Linked DNA regions of Homo sapiens. The protein of the gene in region 3 purifies or fractionates together with the protein of the main gene of each other region. This does not show direct contact. Each region holds a gene or a part of one and is shown on either strand. Other genes may lie near its edges.

The links.
Region 1: the proteins of ROR1 (region 3) and MORC3 purify together in Homo sapiens (affinity purification with mass spectrometry; one study listed by BioGRID and IntAct). This does not show direct contact.
Region 2: the proteins of ROR1 (region 3) and TBC1D4 purify together in Homo sapiens (affinity purification with mass spectrometry; one study listed by BioGRID and IntAct). This does not show direct contact.

Annotation. Positions count from the first base shown.
Region 1 is NC_000021.9:36,337,141-36,340,874, forward strand, and holds part of MORC3 (MORC family CW-type zinc finger protein 3), read left to right. Parts: intron 1-591; coding exon 592-806; intron 807-1,633; coding exon 1,634-1,781; intron 1,782-3,734.
Region 2 is NC_000013.11:75,286,670-75,290,169, forward strand, and holds part of TBC1D4 (TBC1 domain family member 4), read right to left. Parts: intron 2,442-3,500; coding exon 2,265-2,441; intron 357-2,264; coding exon 123-356; 3' UTR 1-122.
Region 3 is NC_000001.11:64,046,475-64,050,208, reverse strand, and holds part of ROR1 (inactive tyrosine-protein kinase transmembrane receptor ROR1 isoform 1 precursor), read right to left. Parts: intron 519-3,734; coding exon 231-518; intron 1-230. UniProt on the Homo sapiens protein: Has very low kinase activity in vitro and is unlikely to function as a tyrosine kinase in vivo. Receptor for ligand WNT5A which activate downstream NFkB signaling pathway and may result in the inhibition of WNT3A-mediated signaling.

The DNA.
Region 1 (3,734 bases), on a different chromosome or scaffold from region 3:
TGATTTTCTACTACTGGTAGATGATGAGTCAGTCTTCACCACTGTCATCACCTACCCCACCCTACTTCCAACTCCCTAAAAGTCCACCATTCCTTTAGAGTTGTAGTATATTTATATCAATTACTGATAACTTTAGTGTAAATTAGGTTTAACCATTGTTTGTAATAAAACCTACCACTTTGTTGGGAGTAACTTTTAGAGGAAGAGATTCATGGGGTGAAATCTCACAGTCCCGGAAGCATGGGTTATACTCAGCTATTTAGTCAGGGTGTGCCAGCGATGAGTTTGCATGTTAGTACTTGTGATCCTTTTTCTCCCCTGTGATGTAGATTTGGTTTCCTTATTTCAGAGCTGGGAAAACACGTCAAGATAGATTAAAAGTAATCTGCCCGATACATAAAAAATCAACAACAACAAAAAAGTAATCTGCCCAAGATTATACAGCTAGGAAGGGTGAGGCCAGTATTTGAACCCAGGCTTTTTACTTGGTATTACAATTAATGAATTAAAAAAAAAGATTATAGGTATTTATTTATTTATTTATTTTTGATTATAGGTATTTATTTTTAAAAATCTTTATTTTCTTCTTAGCTTTGGCTTCAGTGACAAAGTCACCATGAATGGTCATGTCCCAGTTGGATTATATGGGAATGGCTTCAAGTCGGGTTCTATGCGTCTGGGTAAAGACGCAATCGTTTTTACCAAAAATGGAGAAAGCATGAGCGTGGGCCTTTTGTCTCAGACCTACTTGGAAGTCATAAAAGCGGAGCATGTTGTTGTTCCAATAGTGGCATTCAACAAGCACCATATCCTTTTGGTTGTGAAATAAAAGCTGTGGAGAAACTGAAGAAATAATTTGGAAACATTCTATGTTTTTGCCTTCTTCCAGATTATTCCCTTTGAATAACACCTATTCCATTTCTTACCTCTGTCCTCTGCATTTACCCTACACCTGAGGCTAAGGGTTTGTCCCTTTCTCTTCTCTGTTGGAATCCTGCTATGGAAATACTCAACATTTTATGTTAAACTTCCCATAGCTCTTCTGTTTACTTCAGGGTTATTGTAGACTAGTAAGACTTTATGGTTTGGCTTGAAAATTTGACTAGTGACCACAAAAGGCAGGATAACTTTAGGAAAATGCCTTTTGTATGAACACATTGGAATATTAGAAAGTATTAAGTTAGTTAGGAATAATAATCTGCTTATTTTTTATTCTTCTTCTTGTTCATTTGAAATCAAACTGCCATGTTAAAACTTAGAAAATAGGCTGAGCTCGGTGGCTGATCCCTGAAATTCCACCACTTTGGGAGGCCAAGACAGAAGGATTGCTTGAGCCCGGAATTTTGAGACCAGCCCAAGCAACGTAGGGAGACCCTATCTCTACAAAAAAAATTTAAAAATTAGCCGGTCGTGGTGGTGGGTGCCTGTGGTCGGTCCCAGCTAGGCTGCAGTTAGCCCTGATCATGTTACTGCACTCTAGCCTAAGCAATAGTGAGACCCTATCTCACAAAAAAAAAAACCTTAGAAAATTATTTATAAATAGTTTTTCTGTTATTTAAGTTTATAGAGTTAGTTTTCATATTGTAATTATGAAAACTATGTTGTCAATCTGAGTCTTTAACTTATGATATACGACAGATGATTAATTTAGCAGAATCAAAAGCCAGCCTTGCTGCAATTCTGGAACATTCTCTGTTTTCCACGGAACAGAAGTTACTGGCAGAACTTGATGCTATTATAGGCAAGAAGGGGACGAGGATCATCATTTGGAATCTTAGAAGGTAAACGTGGACATAGATGTTGACCGTTTGGGAAGTAAAGTGCACGTGCAGGGTGGTGGTGTTATATTCATCTCTCGTTACACACAGTAGAAATACATGGAAAGGTACTCATTTTTTGGTGTAGTTACTGATTTGTCTTTGCCCAGGATATGTTATAGAGGCCATTTCAGCTTCAATTTGAGATATTTTCATCTTGTTAAAAAAAATTTTTTTTTGAGACGAAGTCTCACTCTTGTTCCCCAGGCTGGAATGCGATGGCGCAATCTCAGCTGACTGCAGCCTCCGCCTCCTAGGTTTAAGCGATTCTCCTGCTTCAGTCCCCCGAGTAGCTGGGATTACAGTCGCCTGCCACCATGCCCGGCTAACTTTTGTATTTTAGTTGAGACAGGGTTTCACCATGTTGGCCAGGCTGGTCTAGAACTCCTGACCTCAGGTGATCCACCCGCCTTGGCCTCCCAAAGTGCTGGGATTACAGGCGTGAGCCACCACACCCGGCCAAAAAAAAAAATTTTTTTCTATCCCTGCCATTCAGTCTCCATTAGCACTCTATTCTCTCTCATTTATTCCACCCCGTCTTCTCAAAAAAAAAAAAAAAAAAAGAAAAAAGAAAAAAAGCAATGAGAAGACAAATTCAGGAGGATAAATCTTTCTTCATTGTGTACATTACTTAAAACTAAAAGTGATGTAGCACCTGATGAGAAAAGTAATATAGGTGAGATTTTTGTGTTGCTAAAATTTATAATCCTTTATCTTTGTGAGGATAAAATCCTTCGCAAATAAATTTTAAAATTTAAGACTAATGTCTAATACTGAAAGATCTAAGACATACTGAATCACAGGAATAAAGCACAGGTAGTGATAAGCCTAAAGAACTGAAAAAACTTGTGCTATTCTGATACCTGAATTCGTTTTTCTTGCTTTCACTTCCCTACCCCTCCTTCTCCTGGAGGATTTTTTCAATTATACTTTCTGAGGTAATTGTAGATTCATGTGTAGTTGTAAGAAGTAATAGAGAGATGTTAGGTACACTTCATTCAGTTTCCCCTGCTGGTAACATCTAACAAAACTATAGTACAGCCAGGCACACTGGCTCACACCTGTAATCCCAGCACTTTGGGAGGCTGAGGCGGGTGGATCATGAGGTCAGGAGATCGAGACCATCCTGGCTAACACGGCGAAACCCTGTCTCTACTAAAATTACAAAAAATTAGCTGGGCGCGGTGGCGGGCGCCTGTAGTCCCAGCTACTAAGGAGGCTGAGGCAGGAGAATGGCGTGAACCAGGGAGGCGGAGCTTGCAGTGAGCCGAGATAGCACCACTGCACTCCAGCCTGGGCGAAAGAGCGAGACTCTGTCTCAAAAAAAAAAAAAAAAACTATAGTACAGTAGTACTATTGATATTGACAGGATTTTGATGTTGATACAGTCAAGATGCAGGACACTTTAGTCATCACAGGAATCCCTCATGTTGCTCTTTTGTAGCCATACCCACTTCCCTCATAACCCCACTCCCTCCTTAATCCGTGGCAACCTCTAATCTGTTCTCTATTTCTATAATTTTGCCATTTTAAGAATATTACATAAACAACATGGAAACCTTTTGGATTTGACTTTTTTCACTTAGCATAACTCCTGGCGTTTTCCAGGTTCTTGTATGTATAGTTTGCACCTTTTCCTTTTTCTTTTTTTTTTCTTTCTTTTCTTTTCTTTCTTTCTTTCTTTTTTTTTTTTTTGAGATAGCGTTTTGCTCTTTCCCCCAGGGTGGAGTGAAGTATAGCGCCATCTCGGCTCACTGCAACCTCCGCCCACCGGGTTCAAGCGATTCTGCTGCCTCATCCTCCCGTGTGGCTGGGATTATAGGCACCTGCCACCATGCCTGGCTGATTTTTGTGTTTTTAGTAGAGACAGGGTTTTGCCATATTGACCAGGCTGGTCTTGAACTTCTGACCTCAGGT
Region 2 (3,500 bases), on a different chromosome or scaffold from region 3:
CTCAGCACCAGTATTAGGTGGTTCCATCAGCTTCAGGGTCCAGCCTTGGGCCAGCGACATGCAGGCTCTTCCTCTCTGTAGTATTCTAAGGAGCACTTTCTGCTGAGGCCGTGCCTCTTCAATTATGGCTTATTTCCTATCTTGGCTTTGTTGTTAGGGTTGCAGTTTAGGTCTCTCAGCAACAGGTCACAATTGACTAGAGCATCCGCGGGCAGCAGCTTCCGGAGTTGCTCCACTGTCTTTTGATAAGCCATTTTTTCTTGTTCCAGGGTCCGGATTAAAGACTTCATTTTGGTCTCTCTCGTCAAAAGATTTTCCAGGTTTGATTCCAAGGCCTGGATTTTAGTATGAGCTACCTGTTTGGGGGGGAAAAAATCCTCCAAATCAAATGATTCATTATAGTAGGAGACAGTCCTTACACATATTAACCAATTACTTCAAATTACTTAATAAAATATTATGTGAAGCAAATACTCTGAAAACCTACAGGAAACGATGATTTATTAGGTTTCACAAAGATGTAACTATGGAACTACCATGCTTCATCTCTTCTCACTGAACACACGAATAATTCAATACTAAATCACCCCCCTCACCAACAGTAGGAATCCTTATTCTACACCCACTGGTGTTCCCCTGAGTGAGTGGGATCTGGCCTGGCTGAAGGAGAAACAGGAGATTCCTGACACTATTGCAGTGCTAAAAGAGATTTTCCTTCTCTGACTGAAATACGGCGTTCTCTAAACATACACTTGGGCTTTCATCAGTATTTATAGATGTGAGGGGTGGCCAAGTAACTGATGATGACTACACTGAACTGTCAGTGAAAAAGTCTACAACAGTTCAGACGAATCATTATAAAACAGGTACAAACCCACCTTCCCTAATAAGGGGCAAATAATTAATCGCCATTGACCTATCCAACTAAAAATGGACAATATACTAACCATTTAGTTTTCTTTTTGAAAATAGAGTATGTTGCCCTTTTTTGAATAGAAAAAAAGATTTACATTTTCTATGAGCCAGAGCCAATGTAAGACAAAGCGAAGGAAGTTTAGTGTTCCCATTCTTGGGAAGCAACTACTTTAGAGATCCCTCATTTCTAACCTGTCTCTCTTGACTGGTCTTGACAGGGGACTCACCATATAGAAGCAGAGTTTTAGTGTTTTCCAGTTTGTAGCCAGGTGCAGTGTTGGGGAAATGGAGAGGAGGAGTAAGTGGAAACCGAGGAGCCATTAGACACTGAAACTCCCCTGAAGTCATCTCCCCGAAGACTTCAGAAGGGTCACCTGCTAGCCCCCATCCTGTGATCACTCTTAAGCCCCTCCCCTCAGGGCATGGCTACATAGCACACATCATACAAGTTGCAAATACCGAATATGACTTTATAATAAATTTCTTATTGCATGTATAAGTGTGCGCTTAGAGACAGATATATAGTATTTTATATTCTCAAATAATTGTGAACTCCCTGATGGCAGGAATGATGTATTAATATTACATGTAACATTTGCATGGGATTCAATTTACCTAGACATGTCTCCCTCTCTTCCAATTTCCATTTTAGTCTAGACAACTCTCATCATCCGCAACAGATTTTCACAAGTGACTTTTAGCAGGCCTCCTTACCTTCTCTCCCATCTCAATCTGTCCTCGTCAAGGTTCCCAGATTGATCTTTCTACAGCATGGCCCAAAAACTTTGAGAGATTTCCCTCTTGACAGGATTAAAGCCATGTTCTTTGGCTTGACACTGAAAGTCACTTACGATTCTGCCTCTATCATATTTACCCTACCTCTCCCCAACCTCTATCTTAAATTGACACTAGGCTAACTTTGCTGCTCTGCCATGTCCTTCTGATTGATGCCACCCTCCTACTCAGCCTGACTTAAAGACCCTCCTCACTCATTTCTTCCACCAACCCTCCAGATTCCAGCTCAAGCCCAGGTCCTTCACAACTTCATCAATTTCCTACATTCAATTCCTCCTCCCTTTAATTTAACCAAATATCTATAACATGCAACAGGTATTTAAGCAGATTCCACTTTGAACTGCCATTTAGCTATTTTGTGAGGGTGCATTTTTTTCCAAGTAATGTTTAATTTAACATGTCATTTGTAGCCCCAGAGCACTTGGACAGTCTGATACATGGGCTCTTGGTTAGCAATGGTTCATTCCACGCACATATCCCTTTCATTCCTGAGGTAGTTCTGTGCATGCAGGAGGCATTGAAGTACTTATTTGCTCAAATCTTTATTTCTTTACCTGTAATTTTTCTAGGAGGTCCATGTTTTGTCTTTTCAGTTGGCTATTGGCCCTCTCCAGCTTCTCCAAAGTTTCACTATCCTCACAGGAATATGAAGATTCCTGAAGCTCATCCTGTAGCACATGATATTCCACCTCATAGGCATGCAACTGCTTAGAAATATCCATCTCAAAAACCTGCCATGAAAGTATCATGGGTTAGGCTAGCCTTTGGTATGTATAACAAGATACAGCCTGTTTATCTTGGTATATTTCATGTATATTTCCAAATACTTATTAATGAAGAACATTAAAGCATAAAAAAGCAAAAAAAAAGTGTAACTGTCAATACAAGAATAAATTAGATATAGTTTACACTGTCAACATAAAAACAGATAGCTCTTTCTGTGAAAGAAGATTTTCTTTAAAAACAGAACAGATAGATTATTTCTATGCAATTGAAACATTCTCATGAAGCTAAGTCCCTAGAATAAATTAATGTCCAAGTGTATTTGGCAGCTAAGATATTCATAATCTAGTAACTGTCTCCCAAAATGTAGTATACTAGATAAACAACATTAGTTATTGAGTAATTATTATGTTAGAGATAATCTCTGCTGATTAGTAAGCAAAATTGCATAGGGTATTACTGTAATAAAGCAACCAAAAGCATTTCTAATTTATTTGCCAATGGAGCAGAAAGATCTTAATAAAATTTTGCATCCATTTGCTATTCCCTGTAAGCCTCTTAAGAGTCATTTACATATTGTACCACACAGAGAATCCTCAAAATTGCACACTGTGAGCACTGTCCAGGGCTGTAAGGTTTAATTAGGGCTGCTACTGCTCTCCCATGTCACCACTAAATAGGAAGGTCGTTTGCTTTGAAGCTAGAGGACAGTTACTCCAAACTTCCTAGGGGGAAGGAGAGACAACAGCTGCTATTCAAGCAATGGTGTCTATACTAACACTGAGAAGAGAAAAGAAACCACAAAAAACCTGACTTACTCTACTACTTACTAATAGAGATACTCAAACATTCGAATTTTAATAAGAGAATTTCTAGACTAACTGGTTATCCTCAAATAACCATCATCTTTTCCTTACTTAGTGGGTATGGATACAATGGATTATTATACAACCATTAAAAATGATAATATGGATTTATAGTTACTGGAAAAAATCTAATACTTTATATTTTTAATTATAAATCAGGTTCCACAATAGTATATATAGTATGATTTCATTTATGTACAA
Region 3 (3,734 bases):
CGGACCTCATTCCTGCTCTGCTGTTTACTAGCTGGGTAACATGGTAACTAACTGCTGGGCCTTAGTTTACTTATTTGTAAAATGGGTACAACCATACCAGGTTTAGGGTTGTGGGCACAGAGTACATTCTCACTAAGTGTGCATTCCTTCCTTCCTGTCCCTGTGGACTCTAGCCATCCTACCACATTGGGCTGAGGGCCAAAGTCCATCCCCAGTAGGGGTCTGCTTACCAAACTTGACAAACAAGACTCCAGTGGAAGAAACCACCTCCTTGCCGTTTGTTGCCACGCACTGGAAGTAGCCTGTGTCTGTGGTGTCGAGGTTTCTAATCCGCAGCCGAGAGCCATAGATGGTGGACCGAAAGGAGAGCCTCCGGGGCTCCTGGACCACAGGAGCATCATTTTTGAACCAGCGGATGGTGGGAGGTGGATTCCCAGAGACTTTGCAGTGCAGTTCTGCTGTCTGGCCCAGAGACGTGGTGATGTTATTCATTGGTTCATCGAGGGTCAGGTAAGAATCTGTGAGCACAGAGAGGAGGCAGGTGAGAGGGGCAGACAGCTTGAGAGGGCTTCCAAGCAGCCAAATCCCCTCCAGTGTACCCTTGGGATCACAGAGAGGCTGAGCAGGAGAGGCAGGTGAGACAGACAAGGAAAGAAACAATCACATTGATTAAGACCAGAGGACTGCTAAATAACCACCCATAGAGCCTGCTGCTTGGAAGAAAATTTGTCACTAATCAGAGTATAGAACCCAAAGTCTCCAAAAGACTACATGGATAAGCTTTTGTGCTTCAGATCAAAAAATCATATACACTCCTTGTTCCAAATTCCAGCATAGCAAAAGAGAGAAAATAAAGTTCACCTCAAATCTCCCCACCCAAAAATAACACCATTTTTAACATCCTGGCAAACATCCTTCCAGTTTGCTCACTTTTGATAAGAAAGAAAGCATCAAAAATTGGAAAAGTAGGAGCAACACATTCATATCCACATGGCACAAGATCAGAAAGGATGCCTGAAACTTTCATGTTACTGACAATATAAGGTTATGAAGGCCAGGTCAGAGGCAGACAGAGTAATAAAGCAATGGACATTTCCATAATATTACTGATATCAACCATAACATGTTACAATATGTAATTATTTTGATCACATATATATAGATTAATTCATATACAATACTGTGCAATATACAGATCTTAGTTATACAGTTCTATGAGTACAGGCAAATGCATATACTCATGTAACAAATGTCCCTATCTTGATAGAACATCAACAACCCAGAAAGTACCCCCACAATCTTTTGTAGTTGGTCCCTGCTCCCAACCACTCCCTCCCACCCCACCTTGAAGCAACTAAGGTTCTAATTTCTATTACCATAGGTTAATTTTGCCTGTTTCAGAACTTCATATAAATGGAATCATGCTGCATGTATATTTTGCTTTGGCTCCTCTTAAGATTTATTGCACTATGAATTTTAATAACAAAATAAGTTTTATTTAAGCTTATTCTTCAATCAAGTATTTAAACATCAATATTAATATTAGTTGTAGAATCCAATTGCAGATAAAATTATTTATTTATTTTTAATTAAGTTTGATTTCTTTTAAAAACGTGCTCTGTTATTCATGGGTAGGGAGCTTTCTTTGGTTTCATTTTTCCTAAGCACCCCTTCTTGGATAGATCCCCTGCCATACTTTCTCATTGTCCTATGTCCTTCCGTAGGTCCAAGTCTGGGGTAACTTGTTCAGCAGAGCTATCAGCCCCATAAGGGCAGGGATGGGAATGTTCTGGTCATCACTGCATCCTCAGTGTATACTACTGTCTAGCAGTGTTATCCACCAGAACTTTCTGCAATGATGGAAATGTTCTATAATCTGCACTGTCTGATTGATAGCCACTAGTCACACAGGGCTTACTGAATGCATGAAACATGGCTGGAGCAACTGAAAACTGAATTTTTAAATTTAAATAGCCACATGTGGCTAGTGGCTACTGTACTGGACAGCACAGGTAGAACGCCACAAATTTGTTGAATTTAATGGAAGTTTATTGAAAAGTAACATTTTTCTGAGCTATTTAACCGGGTAATTTAATTGCCCAAATGTCTGTAAAATGAGTTCATAAATGCTAAAAATAATTGATTCATTATTTGCTTTAATTTCCGTCCCCCCAAATTCAGAAGGAACATTGTTAATGTCTGGGCAGCCTCACAGGAGTGTGTCTCACATATGAATGGCATTTATCACATGTGCAGTAGGAAACAGATTAAGCATGACTACTGCATTACCATAATGACACTTTCCATCTCACTTAAGCCAATGAATAATTATCCTTCACAACAGATTCATGAGCCCATAAATGATCTTGCTAATGCTTTGCTTCCTAACATTTATATTTTGATCTCTATCTTTGGGCATGTTTCTCCAATCTATATACATCTATACTCAATCCACGAATGTGTTTGCTCATGGATATAAGCACATATGTTCCTAAGATGTTTGAGGTATGCCCAGAAAGGAGGGAGACTAATTAGCAGATGGCTCTATGGAGCCATTATCATGCCTTTATAGCCCCATATCATTCATTGAGAATAGATAACTATGTACCCTTTGTGGAGAGAAACTTAGAGATAGCAATCACATAACAATGCCACTATAAGCATAGTGATTAATACTGCATTGGACAGGTTCTGGAATTTGATTGGCTGGGTTTGAATTCAGGTCAGCCCCTTGCCTATCTGTGTGACTTTGGGCAAGTTACTTAACCTCTTTGTACCTCAGTTTAACCAACGGAAAAACCAAAATAATAAACAGGGCTCCATCTGAGGGAACTGTTAGAAGAGGATTAAAATGAAAGTGAGTGACATCTGGGAAGCACTTCAACCAGTGTTTGGCAAAAAGTAAGCACTCAAAAATGTTAATTAATGTTGTTACTATTGTTTTTATAACAATAACTTCTGTATACCACTTTTCACATGACAAAATGTTTTCACAGCCTCTGTCTCCTGTTATCCTCTAACAATCTAGAGAAGTAAGAAAGGCACATTAATTACTATGATTTCCAGTGCAGATGAGGAAGTCATGTCTCAGAGATTAGCAGACTTGCCCCATGGTTACTCAGGAAACTGCCCAAAGCTTCCATCACTAATGGCCTTTAATCCTCAGGCTCAGCCAAGCACCTAAAGAAAGTCCATTTGAGGCAGCTGGCCAGTTCTGGACCAATAATGGACTATTTTGAAATCCTACTATATGCTAGGGCTTTACTTTAGTATTCACCTGTATGCTAACTTTGCAAGGGAGAAGTCATTATCACTGTTTTACAATGAGGAAACCTAGGATCAGAGTGGTTTAGTGACTTGCCGGAGGCCTTGTGGCAGAACTGAGGTCCAATTTACATCTCTCTGGCTGCCAAGCCCAAATCTTTTCACTCCACCAGTCTGCTTTGGTACCATGAGACCCATTGAGGGCTGAGATTTGGTACCATGAGACCCATGGAGAGTTGGAATATCTCCCTAAACCAAGGTGGGCCGTGGACACACATATACCCACAGGGTTGTGCTCTTCCCCTAACTTCAGCCAAGACTGTCTGGTTAATGGGCCTAAGCTTTAGCCATGGGTGCTGGCTGATGTTCTTTCTGGTTTCCCTCCAGAGGCCAGGCACCTCACCTGATCTGCTCTATAAAATATCTATCTAAAAACAACATGAGGGTTGCAGGGCACCTTGAAATCAGTG